Linked DNA regions of Homo sapiens: region 1 is linked to region 2. The links come from fine-mapping of genetic effects on gene expression. A gene starts in region 2. The other region holds a variant in brackets. All regions are shown on one strand. Distances are from middle to middle.

Region 1 (15,285 bases), 69 kb after region 2:
GATCACAAAGTCAATACATTGAGACCATCCTGCCCAACATGGTGAAACCCCATCTCTACTAAAACTACAAAAATTAGCTGGGCTTGGTGGCACGCGCCTGTAGTCCCAGCTACTCCAGAGGCTGAAGCAGAAGAATCGCTTGGACCCAGGAGGCGGAGGTTACAGTGAGCCGAGATCACGCCACAGTACTCACCTGGCAACACAGCGAGACTCTGTCTCAAGAAAAACAAAACAAAACAAAAAAACCCCAAAACATGTGAGTGTGTGTCTCTCTCTCTCTCTCTCTATATATATATATACATAGACACACACTCACACACAAATTACCTGAGCGTGGTGGTGGGCGCCTGCAATCCCAGCTACTTGGGAGGCTGAGGCACAAGAATCACCAGAATCTGGTAGGCGGAGCTTGCAGTGATCCCAGATAGCGCCACTGCACTCCAGGCTGGGCAACAGAGTAAGACTCCGTCTCAGAAAAAAAAAAAAAAAAAAAAAAGCTGGGTATAGTGGCTCCCACCTGTAATCCCAGCACTTTGGGAGGCCAAGGCGGGCAGATCAACTGAGATCAGGAGTTCAAGACCAGTCTGACCAAAATGGAGAAACCCCATCTCTACTAAAAATACAAAATTAGCTCAGTGTGGTGGCGGGTACCTGCAATCCCAGCTACTTGGGAGGCTGAGGCAGGAGAATCGCTTGAACCCGGGAGGCAGAGGTTACAGTGAGCTGAGACAGCGCCATTGCACTCCAGCCTGGGTAACAAGACAGAAACTCTGTCTCAAAAAAAGAAATGCAGGCCGGGTGCAGTGGCTCATGCCTGTAATCCCAGCACTTTGGGAGGCCGAGGCGGGTGGATCACGAAGCCAGATTGAGACCATCCTGGCTAACACGGTGAAACACCATATCTACTAAAAATACAAAAAATTAGCCAGGCGTGGTGGCGGCCACCTGTAGTCCCAGCTACTCAGGAGGCTGAGGCAGGAGAATGGCATGAACCCGGGAGGTGGAGCTTGCAATGAGCTGAGATCGCACCACTGCACTCCAGCCTGGACGACAGAGCGAGACTCCATCTCAAAAAAAAGAACTGCAGACAGGCCCTTTGCATCACACTGAACTCTAGGTCTGATGACGTGTATCATCTATGGCCCCACACTATAACACCTTCATCAGATGACAAGCTACCTGGGCAGCAGGATAAACAAAAGCATTTCAGACAACCTGTCATACTCCCTGCTAATCAACAGAAAGGCCAGGTGCCTATGCTCCTAGCACTCTGGGACGCTGAGGCAGGACAATCACTTGAGGCCAGGAAATTCAAGAGCAGCCCGGCCAACATAGCAAGACCCAGACTCAACTAAAAAGATAAAGAATTAGCTAAGCACAGCTGGGCACGGTGGCTCACGCCTGTAATCCCAGCACTTTGGGAGGCTGAGGTGGGCAGATCACGAGGTCAGGAGATCGAGACCATCCTGGCTAACCTGGTGAAACCCCGTCTCTACTAAAAATTCAAAAAATTAGCCAGGCGTGGTGGCGGCCACCTGCAGTCCCAGCTACTCAGGAGGCTGAGGCAGGAGAATGGTGTGAACTCAGGAGGCGGAGCTTGCAGTGAGAGGAAATTGCGCCACTGCACTCCAGCCTGGGCTGGAGCAAGACTCTGTCTCAAACAAAAAGAATTAGCCAAGCATGGTGGCATGTGCCTGTAGTCCTAGCTATGCAGAAAGCTGAGGTGGGAGGATCACTTGAATCCAGGAGTTGGAAGCTGCAGTGAGCTGCGATCACACCACCATACTCCAGCCTGGGTGACAGAGACCCTGTCTCAAAAAAAAAAAAAAAAAAAATGTCTGGAAGGAGCACATACCCCAGAATGGAGGCGGGGGAGAGTCACCAGTCTTTGCCTTTGTGGGGAGTGGATTCCTGCACTCTAACAGACTCACCCAGCTTGGGGGCAGGAGAGAACCCCGAGGTACCATCCAGCACCTGTGTGCCCCCAGGCAACAGGCCCCGGGCTTGGGCCTTTGCCTCTTCGATAGCGTGCTTTCTTTTTTCCACTTCACCCTCCAGGTGTGTGAGATCAACCTGCAAAAGCCAGAAGGTGTCCGTTCAGAACCAGGTGTTTCTGGCCAAACACAAACGCATACGTTACATGAAAAAATGCCGAAGAACCTTTTTCCGAGCATAAAGCTGCAAGATCTTTAAGCAGATTTCCTGAATTTCTTCTTCAGTTGCTCCAAACAAAAGAAACCAATGGGGACGATTGGGCAAAGGGATCTGTAAAAACAAACACTATCATCATTACACTTTCCTCAACTTCACGGCCAGCAAGACTCAGGACAATTAAAAAACAGCCTGTTGGTCACGAAAATGCTTTGGCCCAGATTAGAGTAATTTGAAGAATAACACAGTAAAGTTTACTGGAGGCTGGAGAAAAAAAAATCAGACTAGAATCTCTCCATAGTAGCAACACACTGACCTCCAGCGTCCGGGCAGCAAGATAAATGCAGGCACAGGCGATGCTCTCTGGCTGGAACCGCACGAAGACGTCGGTGCGAAGGCTGTCGTTCATGTAATTCCTGGAAGCCAAACACAGGAAGAACTGCAATGCCCCACCCGGGAACCCAGGTCTTCCGCCTGCATTATCTAGAGAAAATCTAGATAAACGTACTACTCCTCTAAGGAGTCTATTGCTAGGACTCAGAGCTAGACAGTCCTGTGAATCTCAAGAGTTAATGGAGAAATATTCTAGCTGCTTTTTCTAAATACAGTAAATACAGGACAGAAAGGCACAGAAATTATTAGAAAAAAAAAAAGCTGGCTGAATGTCAGACAATACGTGTTGCTATGAAAGAGAACCGACTTTAACTTTACTTTTCCCCTCAACCTTGGCCTGCTCTCATGCAAAGCACGATGCCTCAGAAAGAAAATGTCTACTGGAGTCACTAAAACGCTTTTGATTAAAGAAATCTAAATGCTCAAAATCCATAGTGCAGAGAAACATGCAAACTCAAATGAACTGGCTGAGCACAAAGCCGGTGTGGCTGCTGGGAGACAAGCCATCCTCTTGGGTTCCTCTTCCTCTTCCTCCAGGGCGCTGGCGGCAGGCCCCTTCTCTGCTGACCGAGCTGCAGCTTCCTTGAAGGAGTCCACTTGGAAGAGGGAAAAGCCCCTTGGGTGCAAGTTGGACGCGTGGGAGCATCGTGCGGAGGGAGACTCCGCACCCAAGGGCAGGCCTCTTCTCGGGCTCATCAGAGCCGCTGCCAACTGTCCCATTTCAACAAGGGGTCTTAAAATGAACATTCATAGAATCAGAAGCAACACAATACTGAGAAGCAACATGATACTGAGAAGCAACATAATACTGAACATTTCATCACAGTACATTCTTTAACTTTCATATTTAGAAGCTATAAACATACAAAAATTTACATTTTTTAAAAGTTAAAGCATTTAAAACCTGGCTACATTTTGAGCATTTCCTTTAGATCTCTAAGATTTAATAGACTAAAACCAGACCTTACACTAGCTTTATGAATACTGCAAAAACAGAAAGGGTGATTCCATGAGGACAGTTGAACTGGTTTTATATTTACTGCTCCTCACATACCCCAATAACGGGGAGCCTTGGAGTGGGGCTGCACCCGCAGACGAGGTGGGTTGTGAGGGAATCTGACCCATGACCTTCCAGCAATATCTCTGTCCTAAATAAACCTTGGAGAAGGTAACATACAAACCCACTCAAGAGATTTCTAAATGGGAAGTCCTACAGGTGCCTCTTGGAGACACCCGGCTCTGGAAGCAGCTCCAGGCATCACGGGGGAATCTGTGTGGCGGCCGTGTGGCCCCAGCCCCTGATGCAAGCGTGCCAGTGCACAGCTCTAACACAGATACATTCAACAATCAGTAACCTTTCGGTGTCTAATCAACAACTGTCAGTATTCAAGTAGTGATATTAATCCACGAACTTAAAATTCTTAAAAACAAATGAAATCTTGAGAACATATAAACTTATTGCTGTATTTGAAGTGATACAATATTTTTCAAAGTATCCATGAAATAATTTAAAGATGCACACCTTTTACCAGAGCGTGTCATGCAAAGCTGCTCAAAAGAGCAACTTCAGGGCTTCTAGAAATCATGACATAACCCCACACTGACACAGCCAATTTGTCTCTTCAATTCTCACAGCTTTCCATAGCATTTTTTTTTAAGAGAAAGGTACTGCATCTTTATCATACAGGTACAGCAGTTTTAAAGGGACAAAATTCAAGTCAAGACAGTTACCAACTCTAATCAATACGATTACCAAAGCACGACAGAGGATTAACAAGAAGCACAATCGTCAGAGAACCACAGCAGGAGTCGGCCATGGCTATGCTATGTGCGTACCACCAGTCTAGAGCCAGCCTTCGGTGGAGAGCCTGCACTGGATTGGCTGAAGATGCCGCTGTCCCTGCACCAAAGCGCTTGGACAGCAGAGGAGAAGTCTTAGTCACTTACCCTCAGAGGCTACCCTTTGATTGAAAGAGTACAGAAAAGAAAAGTCAAAATAGGTTCTCTATTAAACATGTCATAGCACCAGACAATTCAGTCAGCAAAAATATGACCCTTACAGACTTAACTCCATGGGAAAAAATTCACCAGAATCCCCAGAATCCCCCAAATACTACATTGCACTTTAGGGTTCCTTTCTAGCACATGCATTGCTAAAATCGGCCCCAGAACCTTCTCTGCCCCTCTCCCATGGGATGCAATGTCAGTGGAGAAACAGACCAAGTCTGCACTAGCCTGTCCCTCCACCCTCCCCAGGAAAAGGTCCCCCTGCGCCAAGTCAACAGCTCCCAGAGGAAGCCCACTGACTGCTCTCTTCAGGGTGGGGGACACAGGAAGTCCAGGCTTGCAGGGAGGGGACGGGCCACCTACCGTGACTGCCAGTGCCCATTTTGGGAGTCTGATTGGAATTTATACAGCAGGAGCACTGGGCACTCGGACAACTCCAGCCCACAACCAAGTCACTGGGCTGCCTACCCACTGCCCAAGTGCCTCAAGTCAACACATTCCTGCACTGCCCTTGCTGGTCTCATAAAACAAGGAAGCTCAACTCACCATGAGGTCTGGACCAGGTGTTGGTTACGCTCACACTCTAACACCTGAAGGTACATAACGATTATCTGGAAGATACGGGTCAGGCAGTTATTACCAAGAACCTTAAGAGCCCAGAATTCAGATCTTGTGGGTGTCCATGCAGCAAACAAGAGCCTCAAGCTAGATCCCAGGAGTGGCTCCTGGCCACACGTCTGGCGGACGGCTCAGCTGGAGGGAGCTTTGCGATTGCACCTGCTGTCTGCCTTGGCAGCCAGGCAGGACGCATGCCCGTGAGCCCAGCCACACAACCCACGGCACAGGCCTCGTTCTTCATGGGGCTGGTTTCATTCTAGTCTTCAATGCCTTTCCACCAGTGAGGTTGGCCTGTCCTACACGTCTCTGTATCCCAGTTAACAACTCACCAAAACACAATATGAACATACTTTCAGCAAACAGAGAAGAACACTTCAGGCCAGGCACACTGGCTCATGCCTATAATCCCAGCACTTTGGGAGGCTGAGGCGGGCAGATCACCTGAGGTCAGGAGTTCGAGAACAGCCTGACCAATATGGAGAAACCCAGTCTCTACTAAAAATACAAAATTAGTCAGGCATGGTGGTGCACGCCTGTAATCCCAGGTACTCAGGAGGCTGAGGCAGGAGAATCGCTTGAAACCAGGAGGCGGAGGCTGCATGAGCTGAGGTTGCGCCATTGCACTCCAGCCTGGACAACAGAGCGAGATTCCGTCTCCAAAAAAAAAAAAAAAGCACTTCAATCTGTGGTGGGCAATTTGTGGATAATTTGAACAGATGGCAGAAAGCCGAACAAGCAGATGAGGAAACCCACCAATAAAAAGGAGATGGAACCAAAGATGGAAACAATTTTTTGGGAAAACAAGTGCTTTGTTTCCATGTGACACAGAAGGCACCCACAACGCTGGGAGTGAGGGACCGTGTCACGGCCATGGTCCTCAGTCAGTACATGCCGCAAAACTCGCCAGTCATTTCAGACTAAAGGGGCCAGAATTCCCCTAATTTCTCCATAAGAGAAAGTAAAGCTATCACTAAAGCAAATGTAGAAAATTAACTGTTGAGGCTGGGTGCAGTGGCTCACACTTGTAATCCCAGAACTTTGGGAGGCCGAGGCAGGTGCATCACCTGAGATCAGGAGTTTGAGACCAGCCCGGCCAACATGACGAAACCCCATCTCTACTAAAGATACAAAAATTACCCAGGTGTGGTGGCGCATGCCTGTAATCCCAGCTACTTGGGAGGCTGAGGCACAAGAATCACTTGAACCTGGGAGGCAGAGGTTGCAGTGAGCCAAGATTGCACCACTGCACTCCAGCCTGCATGACAGAGTAAGACTCCGTCTCAAGAAAAAAAAAAAAAAAAAAAAAAAAGGCCAGGCACAGTGGCTTATGCCTGTAATCCCAGCACTTTGGGAGGCCAAGGTGGGAGGATCACGAGGGCAAGAGATGAAGACCATTCTGGCCAACATGGTGAAACCCCGTCTCTACTAAAAATACAAAAATCAGCTCGGCGTGGTGGCACGTGCCTGTAGTGCCAGCTACTCAGGAGGCTGAGGCAGGAGAATGGCTTGAAGCCGGGAGGTGGAGGTTGTGCCTCCACTGCCACTGCCACCATGCCACTGCACTCCAGCCTGGCGATAGAGCGAAACTCCATCTCAAAAAAAAAGAAAACAAAAAAAAATTAACTGTAGAGAAAGGAAAACATAAACTAAAATTCAACATTTATAAACTCACCACTATTTTTGAAAGCCCAAACTTAAATAATACCATTTCCAAAACACTTAAAAATGTGTTACTAAAATAAACAGCTGACACTAGAAGACGAATACGTCAGGAACTATTCTTGAGATTATAAATAGAAACTGGAAAGCCAAGTCAGGGATGCACTCAGTCCTCTTCAGAGCCTTCAACTGCACTGAGGTGGAGAGAGGCGGCCAGGCAGGAGCAGCGGCCTAGGCGGGCTCGCAGGGCAGGAGCCGCACACCCACCTTATGAGGATGCTTCACATGGACGCAGAAACCCAACTCTTTGAGAACTCGTCTTTCCGCCTTTATAATTTGGTTCTTTAAATTAACATAATCTTGATCCAGTAGTAGAGGCACGGGCTTCCTGCCAGAGAGAGAGCACAGGGTCTGCACCACAGTCAAGCAGAGCAAGGCTTCTGAGATCCCGTCGTTACCTCCAACTATGAGCACCTAACACAAACCCCACAACACAACATCGCTATGAAGTCCACATCCTCTGATGAACAAAACTGCACACCGCTCCCCACAGCCCAGTGCCAACCTCCTCATCCCTTCCCAACGATCCCTCCCTGCTTTTCCTTATAGATCAACAGCTTCTGGTGCACAAGCATAGACCGAACATAGCAAGTTTTAGGATCTCGTGGCACAAATGCTAAAGCACTTTATGTGACTCACGATAGGAAGGTACATATTCACAGTTCAATAACCACAGAACCAATGAAAGCACAATTATTTAAATACAGATGGGCCAGGTGCAGTGGCTCTGCCTGTAATCCCAGCACTTTGGGAGGCGAGGCAGGCAGACTGCCTGAGCTCAGGAGTTCAAGACCAGTCTGACCAACATGGTGAAACCCTGTCTCTACTAAAAAAATGCAAAAATTAGCCGGGCGTGGTGGCGGGTGCTTGTAATCCCAGCTACTCAGGAGGCTGAGGCAGGAGATTCACTTGAACCCAGGAGGCGGAGGTTTCAGTGAGCCGAGATCGCATCACTGCACTCCAGCCTGGGTGACACGGTGAGACACAGTGAGAGTCCGTCTCAGAAAAAAAAAAAAAAAAAAAGGGCTGGGTGCAGTGGCTCACACCTGTAACCCCAGCACTTTGGGAGGCCGATGAGGCCATGTTTTTTCTTTTTTTGAGATGGAGTCTCACTCTGTTGCCCAGGCTGGAGTGCAGTGGCGCGCTCTTGGCTCACTATAACCTCCACCTCCCAGGTTCAAGCAATTCTCCTGCCTCAGCCTCCCAAGTAGCTGGTATTACAGGCATGCACCACCACGACCAGCTAATTTTATATTTGTAGTAGAGATGGGGTTTCTACATGTTGGTCAGGCTGGTCTCGAACTCCCGACCTCAGATGATCCACCCGCCTTGGCCTCCCAAAGTGCTGGGACTATAGGCGTGAGCCACTGCGCTCGGCAAGGCTGTTTTTTTTTTTTTTTTTTTTTTTTTTGAGACAGAGTTTCACTTTTGTTGCCCAGGCTGGAGTGCAATGGCACAATCTCAGCTCACTGCACCTCTAACTCCCCGGTTCCAGCGATTCTCCTGCCTCACCCTCCCGAATAGCTGGGATTACAGGCACCCGCAACCACACCCGGCTAATTTTTTTTTTATTTTTTTTTGAGACGGAGTCTTGCTCTGTCGCCCAGGCTGGAGTGCAGTGGCCCGATCTCAGCTCACTGCAAGCTCCACCTCCCGGGTTCACGCCATTCTCCTGCCTCAGCCTCCCAAGTAGCTGGGACCACAGGCACCCGCCACCACGCCTGGCTAACTTTTTTGTATTTTTAGTAGACGGGGTTTCACCGTGTTAGCCAGGATGGTCTCGATCTCCTGACCTCGTGATCCACCCGCCTCGGCCTCCCAAAGTGCTGGGATTACAGGCGTGAGCCACTGCACCTGGCCAATTTTTGTGTTCTTAATAGGGACAGGGTTTCACCATATTGGTTAGGCTGGTCTCGAACTCCTGACCTTAGGTGATCCACCTGCCTAGGCCTCCCAACGTGCTGGGATTACAGGCCAGCCCGGCCAGAGGCTGTGTTTTCTAAAGGACTTCAATTAACTTCAGGTGCATAAACCCTGGGCTAAGGTCAGAGGCAGCGGTTCTCTGCTGGAGAAATTTTACTATTCCAGGGCCATGAAGCAACATCAACAGACTTTCGTTTTTTTTGGAAACAGGGCCTCACCCTGTTGTCCAGGCTGGAGTGCAGTGGTGACATCACAGCTCACTGCAGCCTCAATCTCCTGGCCTCAAGCAAACCTCCTTTTTCAGTCTCCCAAGTGCTGAGATGACAGGTGTGAGCTCCCACATCTGGTATGAGAGAATTTCTGGCTGTCACATCTAAGGTGGGGTACTCCTGTCATCCAGTGAGTCGAGACCAGGGATGTTGCTGAATCCTGCAGCACACAGGAGAATCCCCTACAACTAAAGATTACCCAGCCAGATGCGGTGGCTGAAATCTGTAATCCCAGTGCTTTGGGAGGCTAAGGCCAGCAAATCCTTGGAGCCCAGGAATTTGAGACCAGCCTGGGCAACACAGCATGACCCCATCTTTACCAAATAAAAAATAAAAATTAGCTGGCATGGTTGGCGTGCTCCTATAGTCCCAGCTACTCAGGAGGCTGAGGCAGGAGAAACTCTTGAGCCTAGGAGGTTGAGGCTGTAGTGAGCCATGATCATACCACCGCACTCTGCCCTGGACAACAGGAAACCTGTCTCAGGAGGAAAAAAAAGATTATCCAGCCTGAATGTCAATAGTGCTGAGATTAAGATTCCCTGCTCCAGAGCACTCAGAAACTTGTGGGACAGAAGCAGCAGCAGGGCCGTGCACTGACATGGGTAAAGCAGGAAGCCAGCCCCAGCGCGACCCGCCACAGCGCACTGTCCTCACTGGAGCCCCTGCCCTTACTAAACCGCATCTACTGATGCCTCTGAGCAGGCTCTGTTGGTGGAGCTTGAGACTGCGCTCATGAATATCCCACAGGTTTAGAGCCTCAGGCCTGTATTGTGTTATACAAGCCTTACTGTAACTTAATCAGAAATAAAGAAAATAGGCATCTATGATAGACTAGACAGCTCTGACTGACTCACTTTTTGTCTCTCAGCTGTCGAAGGCGGTGAAACACATTGATGACGTCCCGTATGCGTCTTGGGGCCTCTTCTATCTTGGAAGCCAGGTGGACACAGGCCATTGACACATGCTGAAGCGGAAGCATTGCAACACGCCCATGTTTGTCCCCAGCCACGGCGTCCTGACGGCCGCCAAAGGCTTGAGGGCTATTCAGACCAAAAGGGAGGTGCACCCAGGGGAAAAAAAAAGTCAAGAAACAGAACCCTCCGGCACAGAGCTCAGACTGGGGGGCAAGTACTCACTCCCTTAGTAACCGGGCAAAGTAACAAACCGTTTTACCCTCAACATACTTCGCTGGGAATGAAGTGCAGGAGGAAGCCTTACCTCCATGGAGTGCTTCACGAAGGACTTGGTATAAAAGAACCGCTGGAACAACACCTGCCCGGTAGCCATGGCCACCTAGAGTAGAAGAAAGTTTCCGTATTTTCAAACGCACCATTCAAAGCCTTCGCGGCCGAAAGTCATCGAGTAACGTGGGACTCCCCACGCAGAACCAAACACTGAAACGCTTCCCACGTCCACAAAGGCTCTTCGCGTCCCGCCGTCTCGGGATCCAGCGCACTGGCGGGCGGGGAGGCCCCGGGTCAGGGGCATGGGCTGGCTAGGGAATGGCGCCGAGGCTGGGGTCGGGGCAGGGGCTGGGGTCGGGGTCTAGGCGGGGGCGGTGCGGGCCCGACTCGCCGCCAACAAAGGCGGCTGCCGCCCCAGCGGTTACCTGGGCCGGAGGCTCGCGGCCGCGCCCTCACCTGCGGCAGGCGGAGCAGGATACCGGCCGCCTGGATGAGCTCGCAGCCCACCACGCGGAGGTCGGTCTCTGTGTCG[G/C]TGTCGAGGCCGCTCGACATGGACGGCGTGAAACGGAGCTTGTCGTCAGGCAGGAGGCAGTTCTCCAAGGTGATGAGCACCCCGGAGTACAGCCTGTCCCCGATCAGCACCCCCTGCGACCCTGAGGGTGCGCCCCCAGATCCCGGGGCGCCGGCCGCTGCCGCGGGAGCTGCCGACCCTGCAGCACCAGCCGCCGCCGCCGCCGCCGCCATTTTGTGCCGCCGACTCCCCTTCGGCTTCTTCCCTCAGGGCGGCTCCTCGCGAAGCTCCACGGCCGCCACCGCCCCGCCCCGTCGCGTGCCATTGGTTCGGCCCGCGACCAGCGCGACGCCGCCTAGCCGCAATTGGCTACATAACCTGCCCGTCAGCAACGCGCCTAACGCCGACGCCGGAACCTGGCGCGGGTGGGGCGGGCTCGTTACCCAGGGGACTCCGCGGTGCCGGCCGACCCGGAAGCATGTCTGTCCCTAGCGGAGGCGCGGGTGCCGTGCTGAGAGCGCCTGCCTGTGCGCCCCGAGCGGGGCTGGGACTCTTCCAAGATGCCCACGTTCGCACAGAGACCCCGGATCGCGGAAGCTCGCGTCTCGAAAGGCCTGTGGGTCAAGGGGGGCCATCTCGGTGGGATCTGGGGCGGGACGACCCCCACTGCTGAACCCTGGGCGCGGGGCAGGGTCAGAGGCTCCGCTCGGCCTCCCCCTGGATGAGACGCGCATGCCCGGTGTCCCCCGGCCGCCGTCGGCGTCGTGTCTTCAGTCCTTATCGACTCCAGACTTTGGGGATGCGTATTAACGCCAGACTCCTGCAAAGTCTTGCCTTCAACACTCAGCCCCTGGGGAGAGACGGGTGGAGGGATGACTGGAAACGTGGCCTCGACGTCCCTACAGAGCCCCTCCAGCGTGGGGAGGCCTAAGTACCTCAAGGTTCAGGCCCACGGAAGGAGTCGGGGGAGCGAGGCCCGGTGATCTACGTGTGAAGGAGCTTGGACAGGACCTCACAAACGCCAGGGAGACGGCGAGGGGGTTCGTGCGTTTGTAACGTCTTGACATCGCTGATCCTCCCGCAGGCGGTCTCACGCCCTGCCCGTCCTGGGTTCACGGTTTTTCATCACCTGCGGCTGTCCTGCGATCGACCACAGCTGTGCAGGAGGGGCAGGAGGTATCTGTTGCTGCAGTTACCGGAACCTTTGCCAGGACTAGTACAGGACCACGGGTGAGGATGGTGGGGAAGCCTGCGTGGGGCAGGGAACGGTGAGGCAGGAAGAGGGAAGGGCAGCAGAGGCCTGAGTGGTTGCAGGTTCACACACTGAGCTGCCAGTAACTGCCCAGCTCAGACGGGCTCAAATTCAGAAGCCACCATTGCTCCTCACCCCCACCCCCAGGTCAGCTGTCCACTAGCTCTGCCATGACTTGATACTGCAGCTCAAACAGTGCCAACCAAAACCCACTCTCCTCACCGCCTGTTATGGGTAACACGGTATGGTTACAGCTTTACTCATGTCCTCTTTCCCCAGGCTGGTAGCTCAGGGATGTCTCGTCTGTGAGTTACAGCTGCACGCTCTCCAGGAAAGAAGGAATTTCCTCTTCTCTGGAAACCCCACCACACAGCTGGTTTCTCATTGGTGCTGCTTGCCCATTCCCTGAGCTGTGACTGCCAGAGGAGTGGGAGGTTGGTGGTGCCTCCAGCCCATCAGGGGCAGGCCCTGGGACCGCCTGGGAACAGGAGGACTATGGCACAAACCGAGTGAGTGATGGGAGCAACCCGCAGGGCTCTGCCACATCCCTGTCTTCCTTCACTGACATGAAACGCAGAAAAGGCAGCTTTGCCACAACACAGGAGCACGCACCGAATGTGGCCGCCCAGGGCTCTGTCCTTGACCCTGTTGTCCAGGACTGTTTACCAAGGGCTGACAGGCACTGAGTGCCCCGTGCACCTGGCCAGACACTGCACTCATGCAGCGGAAAGGACAGTGAACGAGACTTTGTCCCTGGCCTCCAAAGGCTTAGGGCGTAGTGGCTGTCATGAGGCACAGTGACAAGGGCCAGGAGGGGGACCTCTTAGGGGGCCATGCAGTGATGGAAGCCAGAAGGAATGAAGGCCTGCAGTGAGGATGGAGTGGTCGGCCTGAAGCCATCTCTAGCAAGTGGTCAGGACGCTGATTGTTCTGCGCAGGTTGGAGGTAGGTGGTGAGTCTGAGAAAGGGGCCGGAAAGACTCCCCAGCAACTGCTGGCAAAGGGTGAAGGGCACGTTCCCACAGGATTCAAGCCAGCTGCCTTTGGAGGGGAGACGGGCACTCAGTTTAGGCGCTCCTACAGCAGGGTCAGCAAGACAAGCAGGTTGCGGCAAGGGTCTGCGCACTGCTGTGTAAATGTAGGGGCATCGGGGGGCAGAAAGACCAGGGGAGAAGTGTGCATCACCCTTGGGGTTAAGGGACAGTTGTCTGCTAGGTGTTGCTTCCTGGAGATGGCTGAAAAGCCAGTCCAGTCTGCAGGGACCAGGCCACCACCCACCTGATGTGGGAGCATTTCCCCCAATCCCTGCTGGGCTGCTGAATCTGGGGGACATAGGGAAGCTGAGGCTGGTGTTCTGAGTAGTGGCAGAGCTGAGCCACAGGGCATGTCTGAGGTCAGCCCCGAGCAAAATGGAATAGGGACTCAGGGTGGGTCAGGTAACTGGAAAGCGGGCACTGTGCACGCAGCCCTTGAGGGGAGCCAGGGTGGGTGGGGATCCCCCACTGTGTGCAGAAGGCAGCAGCCTTGGAAGCAGGGTGTGCTCCTCGGTGTGGTCGCTCGATACCAGAAAATGACTCTAAAAACTGAAGAGTGTTTGAGTTTCATTCACACAAAACATGGACATCATCTGTGAGGCTCTGTCCCAGAGAGACAGGGCCATCCCTCATGTCTGTTATTGGGTTGTAGATAAACAAAAGTATAAATCAAACAAACTGCAAATTACTCTGTCTCTTTTCCTAATCAATACAGCAACAGTCCTCAGTGGTACTGCACCACTCTGGAAAAAATGCCTTCAGGTTCCTTCCCATCCCCCAAGGCAGCAGCAAATCCTTCGTGTCGCCTCCTACTGGCCAAGGCAGCCAAAGATTTGAAAGTCTTTGGCTCGTAGATGGCCAGATCCGCTAGGACTTTCCTGTTGAGCTCCACCTGGCACTGAAAAAAGAATGAATCAGAACCTGCTGTCAGTGTGAGACACACACTCCGGCTCCGCGTGGTTGCGGCGCTGGCTCAGGAAGAACCCAGCTGCACACTCGCCTGGGGGGAGGGAAGGCCTAGGAGAATCCTATCTGGGTGGCACAGCAGAGGACTTCCAGGCAGGATGCTGAAGGATAAATGTGGACACGGGTGAGGGAAGCACCTGTGGAATCTGCAGGGAGGCTGGACTCCAGTCCTGATGTCGGCCCGGGGAACCAAACACCTTGTTCAGGGTCCTTGGTCACCACCCTGACTGAGCTGACTGCTGGCCTAGGGTAACCCTTTAAGCCAACCTGGAAGTGCCTGCAAGAACCACAGAGGATTTCAGAAGCTAGTGAACAATGCCAGAGTTTAAGGAGTAGAAAAGGGGGGCCGTCTCTTTGAGCATTAAATTCAGCTACCAAGGCAGGGCACGGTGTCTCGCCTGTAATCCCAGCACTTTGGGAGGCCAAGGCAGGCAGGTCACCTGAGGTCGGAAGTTCGAGACTAGTCTGACCAACATGGAGAAACCCTGTCTGTACTAAAAAATACAAGAAAAAAAACCACAAGGCCAGGCGCGGTGGCTCATGCCTGTAATCTGAGCACTTTGGGAGGCTGAGGCAGGCGGATCACCAGGTCAGGAGATCAAGACCATCCTGGCTAACACGGTGAAACCCTGTCTCTACCAAAAATACAAAAAAATGAGCTGGGCATGGTGGTAGTCACCTGTAGTCTCAGCTACTCAGGAGGCTGAGGCAGGAGAATGGTGTGAACCCGGGAATTGGAGCTTTCAGTGAGCCAAGATCGCGCCACTTCACTCCAGCCTGAGCAACAGAGTGAGATTGTATCCAAAAAAAAAAAGGAACAAAAACACAAAATTCGGCTACCGAGGACAAAGTGGCCTACTACCTGTGACCTAACTGTACTACCTGTGACCTGTATGCTTTGTGCAAAGTCTGTCTCCTTTCTTTCTTTCTTTTTTTTGAAACAGAGTCTCACTGTGTCGCCCAAGCTGGAGTGCAGTGGTGCGATCTCAGCTCATTGCAAGCTCCACCTCCCAGGTTCATGCCATTCTCCTGCCTCAGCCTCACAAGTAGCTGGGACTACAGGTGCCCGCCACCGCACCTGGCTACTTTTTGTATTTTTAGTAGAGATGGTGTTTCACCATGTTAGCCAGGATGGTCTCGATCTCCTGACCTCGTGATCCACCCGCCTCAGCCTCACAAAGTGCTGGGATTACAGGCGTGAGCCACCGTGCCCGGCCAAGTATGTCTCCTTTCTTAACTACAGTTCCCTGAGTAAAATG
Region 2 (15,204 bases):
AACACAAAACTGTCTCCCTGGAACTTTCAGTCTCAAAGTCTAGCAAGGCAATAAGCAAACGGGAAATTGAACACGTCGGTGACGGCGACATGCTCGCGAGACAATGCAAAGCTGCTGAGGGAACCGCGCATAGGGGAGCCGCTGGCTTTTCAGGCAGTCAGGACAGGCTGAGTGGAGCTGCAGGTGAAGGTGGCACAGACCTGAGGGCAAGGGCAGCGCCTGGCAAGCCCCAGGAAGGCACTGGGGACCCCACCGTGTCTGAGAAGAAACCACAACCACGAGGGGCTCAGGGGCAGCTGAGGACACTGCCTCCGGAGAGGAGAAGGGGCTTCTCCAGGCTTCACGGGCCTGGCTGCTGGGGAGGACAGGGCAGGGAAGGGCAGGGGGCCAGCAGGAGTGCTGTGGCCGTCCAGACGAGGCCACCCAGACCAGCGGGTCATGAGCTGCTGAACCCTAAAGGCTGGGGTCAGGGCAGACTCGGGACTCTGGAATCGCCAACAAGACAGTGGGGTTTAAAGATCCTGAGACAGTGAAGGCATCAGAGAGGGTGAAGCCTGGAGGGCCGGGTTCAGAAAGTAGGGTTCAGAGGGCAGGGCCGGAAGAACAGACAGAGACCAGGCCATGTGTGTGACCAGTAAGGCAGGCAGGGAGCAGATCCTGGGGCCTAGAAGCCCCCTGAGGATCAAGGATGGCACAGGCCCCTTGCCAAACGCTGCCGAGACCAAGCAAGGTGGCCCAAGCCCCACAGGCACAGACATGGGACCCTCAAGGCCCCCAACAGGAACCCACCTAATGATCACACAGTCCAGGAAGTCTGTTAGGCGGCCGTTCTGGGTGATGTAGGAGAAGTCAGGGAAGCGTCGCTAGGAAGGATGTGGGGGTTTCAGGTTGCACAGTGGTCTCCAGGCAGCATCTGGGGCCACCCATGCCCCAGGGAGGGGCCCCCAGGAAGGGGGGTTCTATGTGCAGACTCAGGCTGGGCACTCCCATCCCGCAGGTGGCACCAGGACCCCTGGCTGCTCACAGCATCCGGAGGGGCCGAGGTTACCCCCAACCTCACTGACAGATGTGAGCTGGAAGCTGAGCCCAGGGTCTCACGGAGTCCAGCCTACAGGACCCCGGGGCTGGGGCTCAGCGCCAGCACAGGGGGACCCCACCATGCAGGGGCTCACCTCGGCCAGGCCCACCCATCCCTGCTCCCCACAGGGTGCAGCCATCCAAGCACAACCACTGCTGCCCACCACCCCACTGTCCCGGCTCTGAGGCCCAGGGTCCAGCTGTGGATGGCCGGCTCTCCCAGCCTCTGGGCCTCCTGCCCAAGGGACTCACGTCGTCATTGAAGCCCATGTGCATTCCACAGTCCAGCATGACATTCTTGCCCGCAATGGAGACCAGGATGCAGCTTCGGCCCACGTCCTGGCCGGCCCCTACTCGAGGGAGGGCAGATGAGTCACTGCTGCGCCCCCCGCCCCCTGTGCTGCCTCCCCAAGCTCTGCAGGACCCCAGTGCACTGAGGAAACCGGACCAAGTCTGCTGTGTGGACAGACACATGGGCCAAGAAGCAGGGCCACCCCTACTCACAGGAAGGGGGACACAGGGGACCATGCCCCACACCATCATGTCCAGGGTGGAGGCTGGCAGCCCACACGCCCTCCCCCGCCAGCTTCCCCTGGCCTCTTAAGGTGGCCACGGCCTGCTGGCTAAGTAGTGGGCACTGTGCTGTGGCCCTCAGCCTCCAACAGAGACAACGGCTGGTCTGTGGGGCCAACACCTCGGTCAGAGTCACTCCTGGGCTGTGGCTGGACCCCCAGCAGAGCTGCAAACCAATGAGGCCACCTTCTCCAGGATCTTTCCCCAGGCAGGCAAGGCAGTAAGTGACTAAGTGCTGGCACTGGGTGTTCTCTGGTGGTGCGGCTGTGGAGGGGCGCCACACAGCCTCAGCCATGCCATAGCGAACACGGTGCCAGTGGTCCAGCAGTGGCCAGCGTGGCAACACGAGCCTCACACCACTGCACACCATGCAGCCCCCAACACAGACCCTCATCTGCAGCCCTCCCACACTCCTGACAGCCAAGCAGCCCTGCCCAGCTGCTCCAGCCAGAGGCCTTGGCCAGCCAAGGCACACTCAGCCCCCTCATGTGGCCTGGGGGCCCGAGAGGAAAGGGTCACGGCCCCTGCACAGACTGTGCCTGGGCAGGAGTCTGATGGCAGTGAACAGTTTTCCCCTTGAATCCCACCCACCTCCCCCTGCCAGCCACTCGAAGTGTCCAAAGCCAGCACCACACATCAGGATGACGGGGCCACAGCCGAGGGGCTGCCTGCCACAGAGAGGGGATCTCAGGTTCTCTTCCAGGCCTGTTCCTGCCCCCGCTGGGTGTGAGCTCTCTGAGAGCAGGGTCTCAGCTGTCTCCTCCCTCTGCATCTCCTACCCCAAGCCACGCCAGGCTCACAGAGGCCCTCTGGCACCTGTGGGAAGGGAGGGCCGCCCCTCTTCATGCCCAGGGACCTAAGGCCACAGAGGCACTTGTGGCACACGGCCCCGAGGCATGGGGCCCGGGCTGGTTTTCTGAATTCCAAAGCCCAGTCCTGAAGTACTGGCAGTCCCGCCTCCCGACAGGACCCACAGTGATCCCAGGAAGGAAAGTGGAAAGGTGCGGGAATAGAGCCTGGAGATACACGAGGGGACAGGGCTCAGAAGACAGGAGGAGATATCCCTGTCAGCAAGGAGACAGACGGCAGACAAACAAGACACCCAAAGCACGCCAGACGAAGGTTACTATGACAGAAAAGAGCAAGGTGAGAGAATGAGGAAGCCTCAAAACTTCCAGAACCATGACAGGAGACTGCTCCGAGAAGCCAACTTTTGAGCAGGGGAGGGGAGGGGTAGGGTGGGGGAGGGGGAGGGACGGGGTGGGGAAGGGATGGTCCAGGGGAGGAGAAGAAGCGGGGCGGGCGGAGGGAGGACAGGCAGCAGGGAGGGACAGGCAGGGGGGAGGGAAGGGACCAGCAGGGGGAGGGACGGGCAGGGTGGGTGGGGGGACCGGCGGTGGGGAGGGATGGGCAGGGTGGGTAGGGGGACCGGCGGCGGGGGGGGTAGCCACACACAGGCCAAGGCGTGGGAGTGACCCCAAGGACACAGCAGTGGTCCAGTGAGCGCGGACACGGAGCCCGAGGCAGTCCCTGGTGCAGGGAAGCGGTGAAACAGGACTTCGGCTTTGATGATACCTTGGCTGAGGTGACCTTGAGAATATACCCAGGTACAGATTGCGGGTAATTGAAGCCACATGAAAGATCAGAAAGATCAGATGTCCAGAGAGTGGGCAGAACAGGCAGCCAAGAGGCCAAATGGGAAAGGGGCAGGCTGGGAGGACCCCACGGAGGACCCAGAGAGCAGGGGAGGGCAGTGGGGCCCATGCAAACAGCTGCAAAATGCCATGGGGTGTGCACAGGCCAGGGGTGTTCACAGCACAGTGTCCACACCGGGGCGGGGGGCACCCTCCGAGGAAGCGCTCACGCCATGGGGGAGGACATGGAATCCCGTCCTGGTGTCTGTGCTGGAAGGTGCCCTCGACCCCCTGCCCGGTGGAAGGACCAGGTTCCAGGACAGCACAGGGCAGGCACCTGTGGAAAACGCTAAGGACATCAGGATGACTGGCCACCAACACCATGTCCCTCCAGCTGTTTCTGAGACCCTGGATTTTGACTAATTTTTTCCTTCTTCACATCGTTCTATACTGTTACGACTTTGACTTTCTTTTGAGACATGGTTTTGCTGTCACCCAGGCTGGAGTGCAGTGGCACAATCATGGCTCACTGCAGCCTCAACCTCCTGGGCTCAAGCAATCCTCACAACTCAGCCTCCCAAGTAGCTTGAACCACAGGCACACACCACCACGCCCTGCCAATTTTAGCATTTTTTTTTTTTGGAGTGATGGGGTCTTGCCATGTTGGCTAGGTTGGTCTTGAACTCCTGGGCTCAAGCGATCCTCCCACCTCTGCCTTCCAAAGTGCTGTGATTGCAGGCGTGAGCCACAGTGCCCAGACTGTCAGGACTTTTAGGAGTACATATTTGCGTTTTTTGCTATTTTTTTCAGTGTTGCAGAAATCAGGTAGAACAAGAGCTAAAGTGAGAGTTGATTGTAACTCGGGCGTGAGCACACAGAGTGGTGGACAGAAAGCAAGACGTGAGGAGGCAGAAGCGGGGCTGGGGGGCTGAGGGGCTTGCGGGGTTAAGGGGCTTGGGGGCTGGGGGACTGGGGGGCTGAGGGGCTGGGGGGCTGAGGGTCTGGGGGTCTGCTGGGCTGAGGGGCTGGGGGACTGAGGGGCTGGGGGACTGAGGGTCTGCTGGGCTGAGGGTCTGGGGGACTGGAGCGCTGGGGGGCTGGGGGGCTGAGGGACTGAGGGGCTGAGGGGCTGGGAGGCTGAGAGGCTGGGGAGCTGGGGGGCTGAGGGTCTGCGGGGCTGAGGGGCTGGGGGGCTGGGGGGCTGAGGGGCTGGGGGGCTGAGGGGCTGGGAGGCTGAGAGGCTGGGGAGCTGGGGGGCTGAGGGTCTGCGGGGCTGAGGGGCTAAGGGACTGAAGGGCTGGTAGGGCTGGAGGCGGCAGCGCGCGGCACGGGGAGGTCAAGGCACCGACGAAAGCGCACAGCGAGCGCGAAGGCCCCGCGGCCCCATCTGCGACGTCCCCTCACGGCCGCCTGAACCTCGGGGCTCGCGTTCTCGCGTCACTGCCGGAGGCCCGGGGTGCAGGGACTAGGCCGCCTCTCGGCTCCCACCAGGGCCCGCGCGGGGAGGAGACCGGAGGACGCCCGCGGCGCGCACCTGGCTCCACGAGAAACGGGAGGGAGCGGGGCGCCCAGCCCGCCCGGAGCCGCATACGGAGCCCACCCCACAGCCCTCCCGGCGGCTCCCACTCACCCAAGGGCGTGACTCTGATCTCAGGCATCGTCTCCGCCGCGCTCCCGGACCCGCGAGGCCCGCCTGCGGTGATGCACTGCGCAGGCGCAACCACCTCGCTGCAACTTCCGGTGCGCTAGCCGGAAACGCGGGTCGGGGCGCCGGGCCTCCTGATTGGGCAGCATCCAACCAATCAGGGCGGCGGGCGAGGGCGGGGCGAGGGCGGGGCGGTGGGCGGGGACGGGGCCCGCACGGCGGCTACGGCCTAGGTGAGCGGCTCGGACTCGGCGGCCGCACCTGCCCAACCCAACCCGCACGGTCCGGAAGTCGCCGAGGGGCCGGGAGCGGGAGGGGACGTCGTCCTAGAGGGCCGGAGCGGGCGGGCGGCCGAGGACCCGGCTCCCGCGCAGGACGGAGCCGTGGCTCAGGTCGGCCCCTCCCCAACACCACCCCGGGCCTCCGCCCCTTCCTGGGCCTCTCGGTGGAGCAGGGACCCGAACCGGTGCCCATCCAGTCCGGTGCCATCTGAAGCCCCCTTCCCAGGTGAGACTCGTAGCGCTCGCTCGACAGGGTCTGGTCCCACCCACAAGGCCTGGGGCGCCGTGGGGCCCCGTCTCCTGCTGGCCCCCCAGCCTGCTGTCAGCCCCCGTGCTCTGTGCTCAGGCCGCCCTCGCGCCCGGCCCTGACCTTGGGCCGTTGGGCTGCCCTGGGAAAGGCCTGGAGGTGTCCTGGGTCACCTTCCTGGGCTGGCAAGCTGCCTGCCTCCTGCACAGCCACTGCCCTTCCTGTTGTTACCGAGCCACCAGCCACAGCTCTGAGAAGCTCCTGGCAGCTTCTGTTTGCCACTGGCTCGAATCTGGGCAGGAAGGCAAGGCCCGCAGAATATCTGGTGACCAAGAAGGAAACCCCAGAGCCTCAGAGACCATCTTCTCAGTGGACAAAATTAAGGCCCGAGGAGGGGAGGGGCGTGCTGGAAGTCTATGGGACTGCATCTTTCTGAGGCCCAGGAGCAGCCATCCCCCACACCTGAAGCCCGGTGAGCTCACATCTGGGGCCTCCGCCTGGTGCCAAGCATGCAACCCAACCTGTGGGGCCTGCAACGCCAGGCTTCAGCACCCTGCAGGCACCAGTGCTCCAGCAGCCTGGGCCACGGGCTGGGCAGGGCTTGCAGCCCATGATCCCTAGTGATGAAGGGCCCAGTCCTAGGGTGCTGAGCAACCTGCCCACCTGCTCCTGGCCAGGAGCTCTCACCACGGCTGGGTGCCCTTCCCCCTCCCCCACCGATGGAGTCCCTGCAGCCAGGGAGGCCAGGACAGGGCTCCCAGCACCAACCGGCCTAGGAACCCCCAGGCCCTCTTCCTGGTCGAGGTGGAATGCAGCTGACTCTCAGGTTCCCCAGAGCAGGTGCGGGCCCGTGGGGCACCCGGGGAGACAGGGCAAGGGTGCTTGGCAACACTCACACAAAGCATGGGTGCCTGGATGTCTGTGGATCTGTGGAGTGACTATGTGAATGCCAGCAGAATCCAAAGCAGGGCCTGGGCCACTCGTGGAAGGCTCCCTAGGGCTAGTACAAGAGCCTCGTGGCAATCTTCTGAGTGGTAAAACCCATCTGTGTGGGACATGGAGTTTCAGCAACAGGAGTGAAAACACGTGTCCATCCATCCAGCAAGTGCCAGCCCTACAGCCTCTTTTCTGCTTTTGGGGATGTAGCAGTGAGGAAGATGGGGCAGCCTGCCCGGCAGCATCCCCCCACCCCCGGCCCCACCTGTCTCTGCTTTCTGCTGTGTCTGTTTTCTTGTCTAGGACTTCAGAACTTCCTGTCTTTGTTGTCATCTGACCCCACCCCAGATGGCTGCTCGCACTCCCCATGCACCCAGATAGATGGCTAGGATGGTGCTTGGCTCTCGGCAGGGGCTTAGTATTTCTCCAGCTGGTAAAAGCAGATACAGCATCTAGAGAGAGAAACAAAAACAAGAAAGCACCAGCAGAGACACCTGCTGCAGACAGCGGGGCCTAGTGGTCTGATAAAGCCAGAGGGGGCCACTCTCGGGGTCAGGGACTGACACGGAGTCAGTGGCCTGATCCACAGGAGGGGCTGTGCCAAGGTCCCTGAATGCGCAATCCTGATGAAGGGTGGGTCAGGGTGGTGTGCCTGAGAGCCTGCGGCTTGGCTGGGAGCAGAGCCAGGCAGCTCCTGGGAGGAAGCTCCATGAGGGGCATGAGTGTTCAGTGAGCGGCAATGGGATCGCAGCTATTTTGTTCCCCTCCACACACAGAAAATGAGCCACAGAGCAAGCTGACCCCAGCGACACAGCCCCCCAGCCCTACTGTATTTCCGTTCCTATCAAAAAATGGATGACTCGGAGACAGGTTTCAATCTGAAAGTCGTCCTGGTCAGTTTCAAGCAGTGTCTCGATGAGAAGGAAGAGGTCTTGCTGGACCCCTACATTGCCAGCTGGAAGGGCCTGGTCAGGTGCGTGTGCCAGGGCTGCCTCCTGAGGTGGGCGCTCCCCTGGCCCGAGTCCCATATGTGGCATCTGCCTCCCGACTGCCTGTCCCCACCAGCTTTGCTGCCCGTTTCCAGATGGGTGTGAGCCCCCGCAGGCTGGGCAGCGTCCCCTGCACCCCAGGCGGGCTGCCCCAGGCCTGGGCGAGGACTCGAGCCCCGCTCCCTTCCACAGGTTTCTGAACAGCCTGGGCACCATCTTCTCATTCATCTCCAAGGACGTGGTCTCCAAGCTGCGGATCATGGAGCGCCTCAGGGGCGGCCCGCAGAGCGAGCACTACCGCAGCCTGCAGGCCATGGTGGCCCACGAGCTGAGCAACCGGCTGGTGGACCTGGAGCGCCGCTCCCACCACCCGGAGTCTGGCTGCCGGACGGTGCTGCGCCTGCACCGCGCCCTGCACTGGCTGCAGCTGTTCCTGGAGGGCCTGCGTACCAGCCCCGAGGACGCACGCACCTCCGCGCTCTGCGCCGACTCCTACAACGCCTCGCTGGCCGCCTACCACCCCTGGGTCGTGCGCCGCGCCGTCACCGTGGCCTTCTGCACGCTGCCCACACGCGAGGTCTTCCTGGAGGCCATGAACGTGGGGCCCCCGGAGCAGGCCGTGCAGATGCTAGGCGAGGCCCTCCCCTTCATCCAGCGTGTCTACAACGTCTCCCAGAAGCTCTACGCCGAGCACTCCCTGCTGGACCTGCCCTAGGGGCGGGAAGCCAGGGCCGCACCGGCTTTCCTGCTGCAGATCTGGGCTGCGGTGGCCAGGGCCGTGAGTCCCGTGGCAGAGCCTTCTGGGCGCTGCGGGAACAGGAGATCCTCTGTCGCCCCTGTGAGCTGAGCTGGTTAGGAACCACAGACTGTGACAGAGAAGGTGGCGACCAGCCCAGAAGAGGCCCACCCTCTCGGTCCGGAACAAGACGCCTCGGCCACGGCTCCCCCTCGGCCTATTACACGCGTGCGCAGCCAGGCCTCGCCAGGGTGCGGTGCAGAGCAGAGCAGGCAGGGGTGGGGGCCGGGCCTGCAAGAGCCCGAAAGGTCGCCACCCCCTAGCCTGTGGGGTGCATCTGCGAACCAGGGTGAAGTCACAGGTCCCGGGGTGTGGAGGCTCCATCCTTTCTCCTTTCTGCCAGCCGATGTGTCCTCATCTCAGGCCCGTGCCTGGGACCCCGTGTCTGCCCAGGTGGGCAGCCTTGAGCCCAGGGGACTCAGTGCCCTCCATGCCCTGGCTGGCAGAAACCCTCAACAGCAGTCTGGGCACTGTGGGGCTCTCCCCGCCTCTCCTGCCTTGTTTGCCCCTCAGCGTGCCAGGCAGACTGGGGGCAGGACAGCCGGAAGCTGAGACCAAGGCTCCTCACAGAAGGGCCCAGGAAGTCCCCGCCCTTGGGACAGCCTCCTCCGTAGCCCCTGCACGGCACCAGTTCCCCGAGGGACGCAGCAGGCCGCCTCCCGCAGCGGCCGTGGGTCTGCACAGCCCAGCCCAGCCCAAGGCCCCCAGGAGCTGGGACTCTGCTACACCCAGTGAAATGCTGTGTCCCTTCTCCCCCGTGCCCCTTGATGCCCCCTCCCCACAGTGCTCAGGAGACCCGTGGGGCACGGAACAGGAGGGTCTGGACCCTGTGGCCCAGCCAAAGGCTACCAGACAGCCACAACCAGCCCAGCCACCATCCAGTGCCTGGGGCCTGGCCACTGGCTCTTCACAGTGGACCCCAGCACCTCGGGGTGGCAGAGGGACGGCCCCCACGGCCCAGCAGACATGCGAGCTTCCAGAGTGCAATCTATGTGATGTCTTCCAACGTTAATAAATCACACAGCCTCCCAGGAGGGAGACGCTGGGGTGCACTGGGTGCCTGATTTCCTGCAGGGGGACACAGGGGCACCCAGTGAGGGTGGGGAGGGCCCTCACCCCAGGGACACAGCTGAGGTGGGTGCACCTAACTCCAAGGGAGCTGAGGCCCCACTGCCAGGCTCAGGGGGCTGTGTTAGCCCCAGGGCTCAACAAACACCCTGAGAAAAGGCCAGCCTTGGAGGCAGGGCTGCTGTGTGCCCATTCTCCCAGAGAGGTCCCATCACTATGCCTGTTGTACAGGTGAGACAAGAGAGAGACAGAGTCACCCAGAACCAAGAGGCTGGGTTGGGAGGACGGTTGGGAGGGCAGACATCCGCCTCTCCATGCAAAAGAGGAGAGGCCTGCGTGGGATGTGTGCGTGGAGGTGGGGGCCACTCCCAGCCACAACAGTGGCCTGGACAGAAAGGGGATGCAATTCAGCAGAGTCTTCCTGGATGTCACCCCCACCTCAGGGTCTGTGGGAGCTGCATATGGTGCCGGCAAAGGCTGCCGACTGCAGTATGGGCCGGGAGAACTGCCTGGGTCTGCGTGGGCCCCAGGGCAGGGCTCCCTCCGGGTGTTGCCTTCTGTACAAGTGCCATGCTTGTGCCGTTTGCGTGTCCCAAGTGCGAGTGTGCTATTTGCGTGTGCCGCACGTGTGCCGTTTGCATGTGCTGTTTGCATGTACCATGTGCATGTGTGCCATCTGTGCAATGTGCAGGTGCCAGTTGCATGTGCCATGCGTGTTGGCCGTGAGCGTGTGCTGTTTTCGTGTATGTGCCATGCACGTATGTGCTGCGTGTTGGCCGTGCACGTGTGCCACGTGCATGTGTGCCATTTGTGTATGCCGTGTGTGCTGTGAGCGTATGCTGTGCGCATGTGCGTGCCATGTGCTTTGCGTGTACCATGTGTGTGCTGTTTGCATGTGCCATTTGTGTCATGCACGTGCCATTTGCGTGCGATGCGCGTGTGCCACACGTCGTTTGCTTGCGTGCCATGCATGTGTGGCATTTGTGTATGTGCCGTTTCCGTGTGTATTGTGTGTGCCGTGTGTGTGCCATTTGCATGTGCCGTTTTGTGTGTGCCATGCGCGTGTGCCATGCACTTGCCGTGCGTGTGCCATTTGTGTGTACCATGCGCATGTGCCATTCGTGTGCACCGTACACGTGTGCCATTTGCATGTATGCTGTGCACGTGTGGCATGCATGTGTGCCGTTTGCATGCCATGCATGTGTTCCTTGCGTGTGCCGTGCGTGTCCCATGCACGTGTGCCGTGCATGTGCCATTCGCGTGTACCATGCGCATGTGCCGTTTGTGTGTGTGCCGCATTCCTGTGCTCGTGTGCCAGGTTCGCATGTGCGCCATATTCACGTGTGCTCAGCATGTGCCATATGCATGTGCGGTGGTAGTGTGTGTCCCTCACAGGTCCTCCTCACAACACCATGGGGAAGAAGCACCAGCCAGGGCACACCTCCTGGTATCTGCTAGGTCTGCCAGGCCCTAGCTGAAGCTGAGTGCCCCCCAGTTCCCCTGGGAGGGCCTGCGCCTGGAGTCTGCTGTGTCCCCGAGGGCACCCCCAAAGCAACACAGAGGCAGAGGAGTCCCGGCCCTGCACACCTGGTGCTGCTCCAGCTGCCGCTCATTTGCCTGTGGCCCTTCCTCCCTTGTTTGCGTGCCCCCCTGGCAAACAAACTCTACCCCCAGCAGGAGCCACCTGTGTGCCTGCCACGCAGGAGTGGCCCAGACGGGGGTCAGCAGTGTGAGTACAGCTGGCCATGCGGTTCCTACAGCTTCCAGGCGTCAGACTCTGGCAGAAGGGCTGAGACCCTCAAGGAACTCTGCTCCCAAGCAGACTGGGAGGGCAGCACCACCACCCCAGGGCCCTCCCCAGCTGCAGGGTGGAGGCCTGGCTGGCCGGCTGCCCACTGGCCTGACTGGTCTGCAGGCCTAGGGGGCCCATCCCTGCTGCCCCCGGCTCCGGCCAGCACAGCCTTGAGTGGGAGCCAGAAGCTCCCGGGGCTGGGTAGGAGGCATTTCTGTGCTTATGAAAAGCCCCAGGGCTGGGTGTCTCTGCATCCCTCCCACGCAGCTGAGACCTCAGAGCCCTGGAGGCCCCTTTGCCCCCTCTCCTCTCCACAGCCTGCTGGGCAACTCCAGGAATCGGGGGGTGGCAAGGGGCTCAGCCACAGGCAGGGAACAAGGCCACGGCCAGCAACTGAGCAGAGCCTGCCTGCCGGTCAACGCTGGCCATAGAGCCTGGCAGTGGCCTCAGGCAGAGTCTGACGCGCACAAACTTTCAGGCCCAGGAAGCGAGGACACCACTGGGGCCCCAGGGTGTGGCAAGTGAGGATGGCAAGGGTTTTGCTAAACAAATCCTCTGCCCGCTCCCCGCCCCGGGCTCACTCCATGTGAGGCCCCAGTCGGGGCAGCCACCTGCCGTGCCTGTTGGAAGTTGCCTCTGCCATGCTGGGCCCTGCTGTCCTGGGCCTCAGCCTCTGGGCTCTCCTGCACCCTGGGACGGGGGCCCCATTGTGCCTGTCACAGCAACTTAGGATGAAGGGGGACTACGTGCTGGGGGGGCTGTTCCCCCTGGGCGAGGCCGAGGAGGCTGGCCTCCGCAGCCGGACACGGCCCAGCAGCCCTGTGTGCACCAGGTACAGAGGTGGGACGGCCTGGGTCGGGGTCAGGGTGACCAGGTCTGGGGTGCTCCTGAGCTGGGGCCGAGGTGGCCATCTGCGGTTCTGTGTGGCCCCAGGTTCTCCTCAAACGGCCTGCTCTGGGCACTGGCCATGAAAATGGCCGTGGAGGAGATCAACAACAAGTCGGATCTGCTGCCCGGGCTGCGCCTGGGCTACGACCTCTTTGATACGTGCTCGGAGCCTGTGGTGGCCATGAAGCCCAGCCTCATGTTCCTGGCCAAGGCAGGCAGCCGCGACATCGCCGCCTACTGCAACTACACGCAGTACCAGCCCCGTGTGCTGGCTGTCATCGGGCCCCACTCGTCAGAGCTCGCCATGGTCACCGGCAAGTTCTTCAGCTTCTTCCTCATGCCCCAGGTGGGCGCCCCCCACCATCACCCACCCCCACCCAGCCCTGCCCGTGGGAGCCCCTGTGTCAGGAGATGCCTCTTGGCCCTTGCAGGTCAGCTACGGTGCTAGCATGGAGCTGCTGAGCGCCCGGGAGACCTTCCCCTCCTTCTTCCGCACCGTGCCCAGCGACCGTGTGCAGCTGACGGCCGCCGCGGAGCTGCTGCAGGAGTTCGGCTGGAACTGGGTGGCCGCCCTGGGCAGCGACGACGAGTACGGCCGGCAGGGCCTGAGCATCTTCTCGGCCCTGGCCGCGGCACGCGGCATCTGCATCGCGCACGAGGGCCTGGTGCCGCTGCCCCGTGCCGATGACTCGCGGCTGGGGAAGGTGCAGGACGTCCTGCACCAGGTGAACCAGAGCAGCGTGCAGGTGGTGCTGCTGTTCGCCTCCGTGCACGCCGCCCACGCCCTCTTCAACTACAGCATCAGCAGCAGGCTCTCGCCCAAGGTGTGGGTGGCCAGCGAGGCCTGGCTGACCTCTGACCTGGTCATGGGGCTGCCCGGCATGGCCCAGATGGGCACGGTGCTTGGCTTCCTCCAGAGGGGTGCCCAGCTGCACGAGTTCCCCCAGTACGTGAAGACGCACCTGGCCCTGGCCACCGACCCGGCCTTCTGCTCTGCCCTGGGCGAGAGGGAGCAGGGTCTGGAGGAGGACGTGGTGGGCCAGCGCTGCCCGCAGTGTGACTGCATCACGCTGCAGAACGTGAGCGCAGGGCTAAATCACCACCAGACGTTCTCTGTCTACGCAGCTGTGTATAGCGTGGCCCAGGCCCTGCACAACACTCTTCAGTGCAACGCCTCAGGCTGCCCCGCGCAGGACCCCGTGAAGCCCTGGCAGGTGAGCCCGGGAGATGGGGGTGTGCTGTCCTCTGCATGTGCCCAGGCCACCAGGCACGGCCACCACGCCTGAGCTGGAGGTGGCTGGCGGCTCAGCCCCGTCCCCCGCCCGCAGCTCCTGGAGAACATGTACAACCTGACCTTCCACGTGGGCGGGCTGCCGCTGCGGTTCGACAGCAGCGGAAACGTGGACATGGAGTACGACCTGAAGCTGTGGGTGTGGCAGGGCTCAGTGCCCAGGCTCCACGACGTGGGCAGGTTCAACGGCAGCCTCAGGACAGAGCGCCTGAAGATCCGCTGGCACACGTCTGACAACCAGGTGAGGTGAGGGTGGGTGTGCCAGGCGTGCCCGTGGTAGCCCCCGCGGCAGGGCGCAGCCTGGGGGTGGGGGCCGTTCCAGTCTCCCGTGGGCATGCCCAGCCGAGCAGAGCCAGACCCCAGGCCTGTGCGCAGAAGCCCGTGTCCCGGTGCTCGCGGCAGTGCCAGGAGGGCCAGGTGCGCCGGGTCAAGGGGTTCCACTCCTGCTGCTACGACTGTGTGGACTGCGAGGCGGGCAGCTACCGGCAAAACCCAGGTGAGCCGCCTTCCCGGCAGGCGGGGGTGGGAACGCAGCAGGGGAGGGTCCTGCCAAGTCCTGACTCTGAGACCAGAGCCCACAGGGTACAAGACGAACACCCAGCGCCCTTCTCCTCTCTCACAGACGACATCGCCTGCACCTTTTGTGGCCAGGATGAGTGGTCCCCGGAGCGAAGCACACGCTGCTTCCGCCGCAGGTCTCGGTTCCTGGCATGGGGCGAGCCGGCTGTGCTGCTGCTGCTCCTGCTGCTGAGCCTGGCGCTGGGCCTTGTGCTGGCTGCTTTGGGGCTGTTCGTTCACCATCGGGACAGCCCACTGGTTCAGGCCTCGGGGGGGCCCCTGGCCTGCTTTGGCCTGGTGTGCCTGGGCCTGGTCTGCCTCAGCGTCCTCCTGTTCCCTGGCCAGCCCAGCCCTGCCCGATGCCTGGCCCAGCAGCCCTTGTCCCACCTCCCGCTCACGGGCTGCCTGAGCACACTCTTCCTGCAGGCGGCCGAGATCTTCGTGGAGTCAGAACTGCCTCTGAGCTGGGCAGACCGGCTGAGTGGCTGCCTGCGGGGGCCCTGGGCCTGGCTGGTGGTGCTGCTGGCCATGCTGGTGGAGGTCGCACTGTGCACCTGGTACCTGGTGGCCTTCCCGCCGGAGGTGGTGACGGACTGGCACATGCTGCCCACGGAGGCGCTGGTGCACTGCCGCACACGCTCCTGGGTCAGCTTCGGCCTAGCGCACGCCACCAATGCCACGCTGGCCTTTCTCTGCTTCCTGGGCACTTTCCTGGTGCGGAGCCAGCCGGGCTGCTACAACCGTGCCCGTGGCCTCACCTTTGCCATGCTGGCCTACTTCATCACCTGGGTCTCCTTTGTGCCCCTCCTGGCCAATGTGCAGGTGGTCCTCAGGCCCGCCGTGCAGATGGGCGCCCTCCTGCTCTGTGTCCTGGGCATCCTGGCTGCCTTCCACCTGCCCAGGTGTTACCTGCTCATGCGGCAGCCAGGGCTCAACACCCCCGAGTTCTTCCTGGGAGGGGGCCCTGGGGATGCCCAAGGCCAGAATGACGGGAACACAGGAAATCAGGGGAAACATGAGTGACCCAACCCTGTGATCTCAGCCCCGGTGAACCCAGACTTAGCTGCGATCCCCCCCAAGCCAGCAATGACCCGTGTCTCGCTACAGAGACCCTCCCGCTCTAGGTTCTGACCCCAGGTTGTCTCCTGACCCTGACCCCACAGTGAGCCCTAGGCCTGGAGCACGTGGACACCCCTGTGACCATCTGGGCCCCAGAGCCAAGCTGTGTCCCTGTCCCTCTGTGCCCAGACCAGGCCTGCCCAGGTAACCCAGACCCACTGTTCTGGAAAGAGGCCCGGAGGGCTCCCAGGGTACCCGCAACCCACACCGTGAGCTCAGGAAAAGGACGCAGGGAGGCCCCGGCCAGATGGCTGGAAGCCCAAATCAGGCCCTGCCGACCTGACCATGTCCCACCAGGGCCCCCATCCTG

What was found. PIP is the estimated chance that this variant, and not a neighbour inherited with it, causes the effect.
Region 1: its variant is fine-mapped to the expression of INTS11 in tibial artery (GTEx, PIP above 0.99). The same link has a PIP of 0.9 or more in sigmoid colon.

The regions. Positions count from the first base shown.
Region 1 is chr1:1,388,299-1,403,583 of GRCh38, forward strand. CCNL2 (cyclin L2) reads right to left here and starts at 11,037. Exons shown (of 11, transcript NM_030937.6): 1 at 10,721-11,037; 2 at 10,299-10,373; 3 at 9,935-10,044; 4 at 7,096-7,216; 5 at 5,098-5,162; 6 at 2,468-2,567; 7 at 2,161-2,265; 8 at 1,932-2,073. The coding sequence starts at 11,008. It overlaps MRPL20 (mitochondrial ribosomal protein L20), which reads right to left. Exons shown (of 4, transcript NM_017971.4): 4 at 13,611-13,958. The coding sequence ends at 13,785. It overlaps MRPL20-AS1 (MRPL20 antisense RNA 1), which reads left to right and starts at 11,232. Exons shown (of 3, transcript NR_015434.1): 1 at 11,232-11,391; 2 at 11,860-12,005; 3 at 12,307-13,748. RefSeq lists enhancers at 4,664-5,164, 11,975-12,518 and silencers at 10,750-10,929, 11,000-11,239, 11,530-11,589. The variant G/C (reference allele first, on the strand shown) is at 10,797.
Region 2 is chr1:1,319,667-1,334,870 of GRCh38, forward strand. INTS11 (integrator complex subunit 11) reads right to left here and starts at 4,994. Exons shown (of 17, transcript NM_017871.6): 1 at 4,915-4,994; 2 at 1,330-1,427; 3 at 790-863. The coding sequence starts at 4,942. It overlaps CPTP (ceramide-1-phosphate transfer protein), which reads left to right and starts at 5,136. Exons shown (of 3, transcript NM_001029885.2): 1 at 5,136-5,436; 2 at 7,170-7,366; 3 at 7,575-9,230. The coding sequence starts at 7,245. The coding sequence ends at 8,097. TAS1R3 (taste 1 receptor member 3) reads left to right here and starts at 11,614. Exons shown (of 6, transcript NM_152228.3): 1 at 11,614-11,870; 2 at 11,972-12,272; 3 at 12,358-13,140; 4 at 13,255-13,458; 5 at 13,593-13,713; 6 at 13,840-15,204. The coding sequence starts at 11,680. The coding sequence ends at 14,798. RefSeq lists enhancers at 2,183-2,691, 3,455-3,964 and silencers at 4,783-4,912, 5,093-5,592.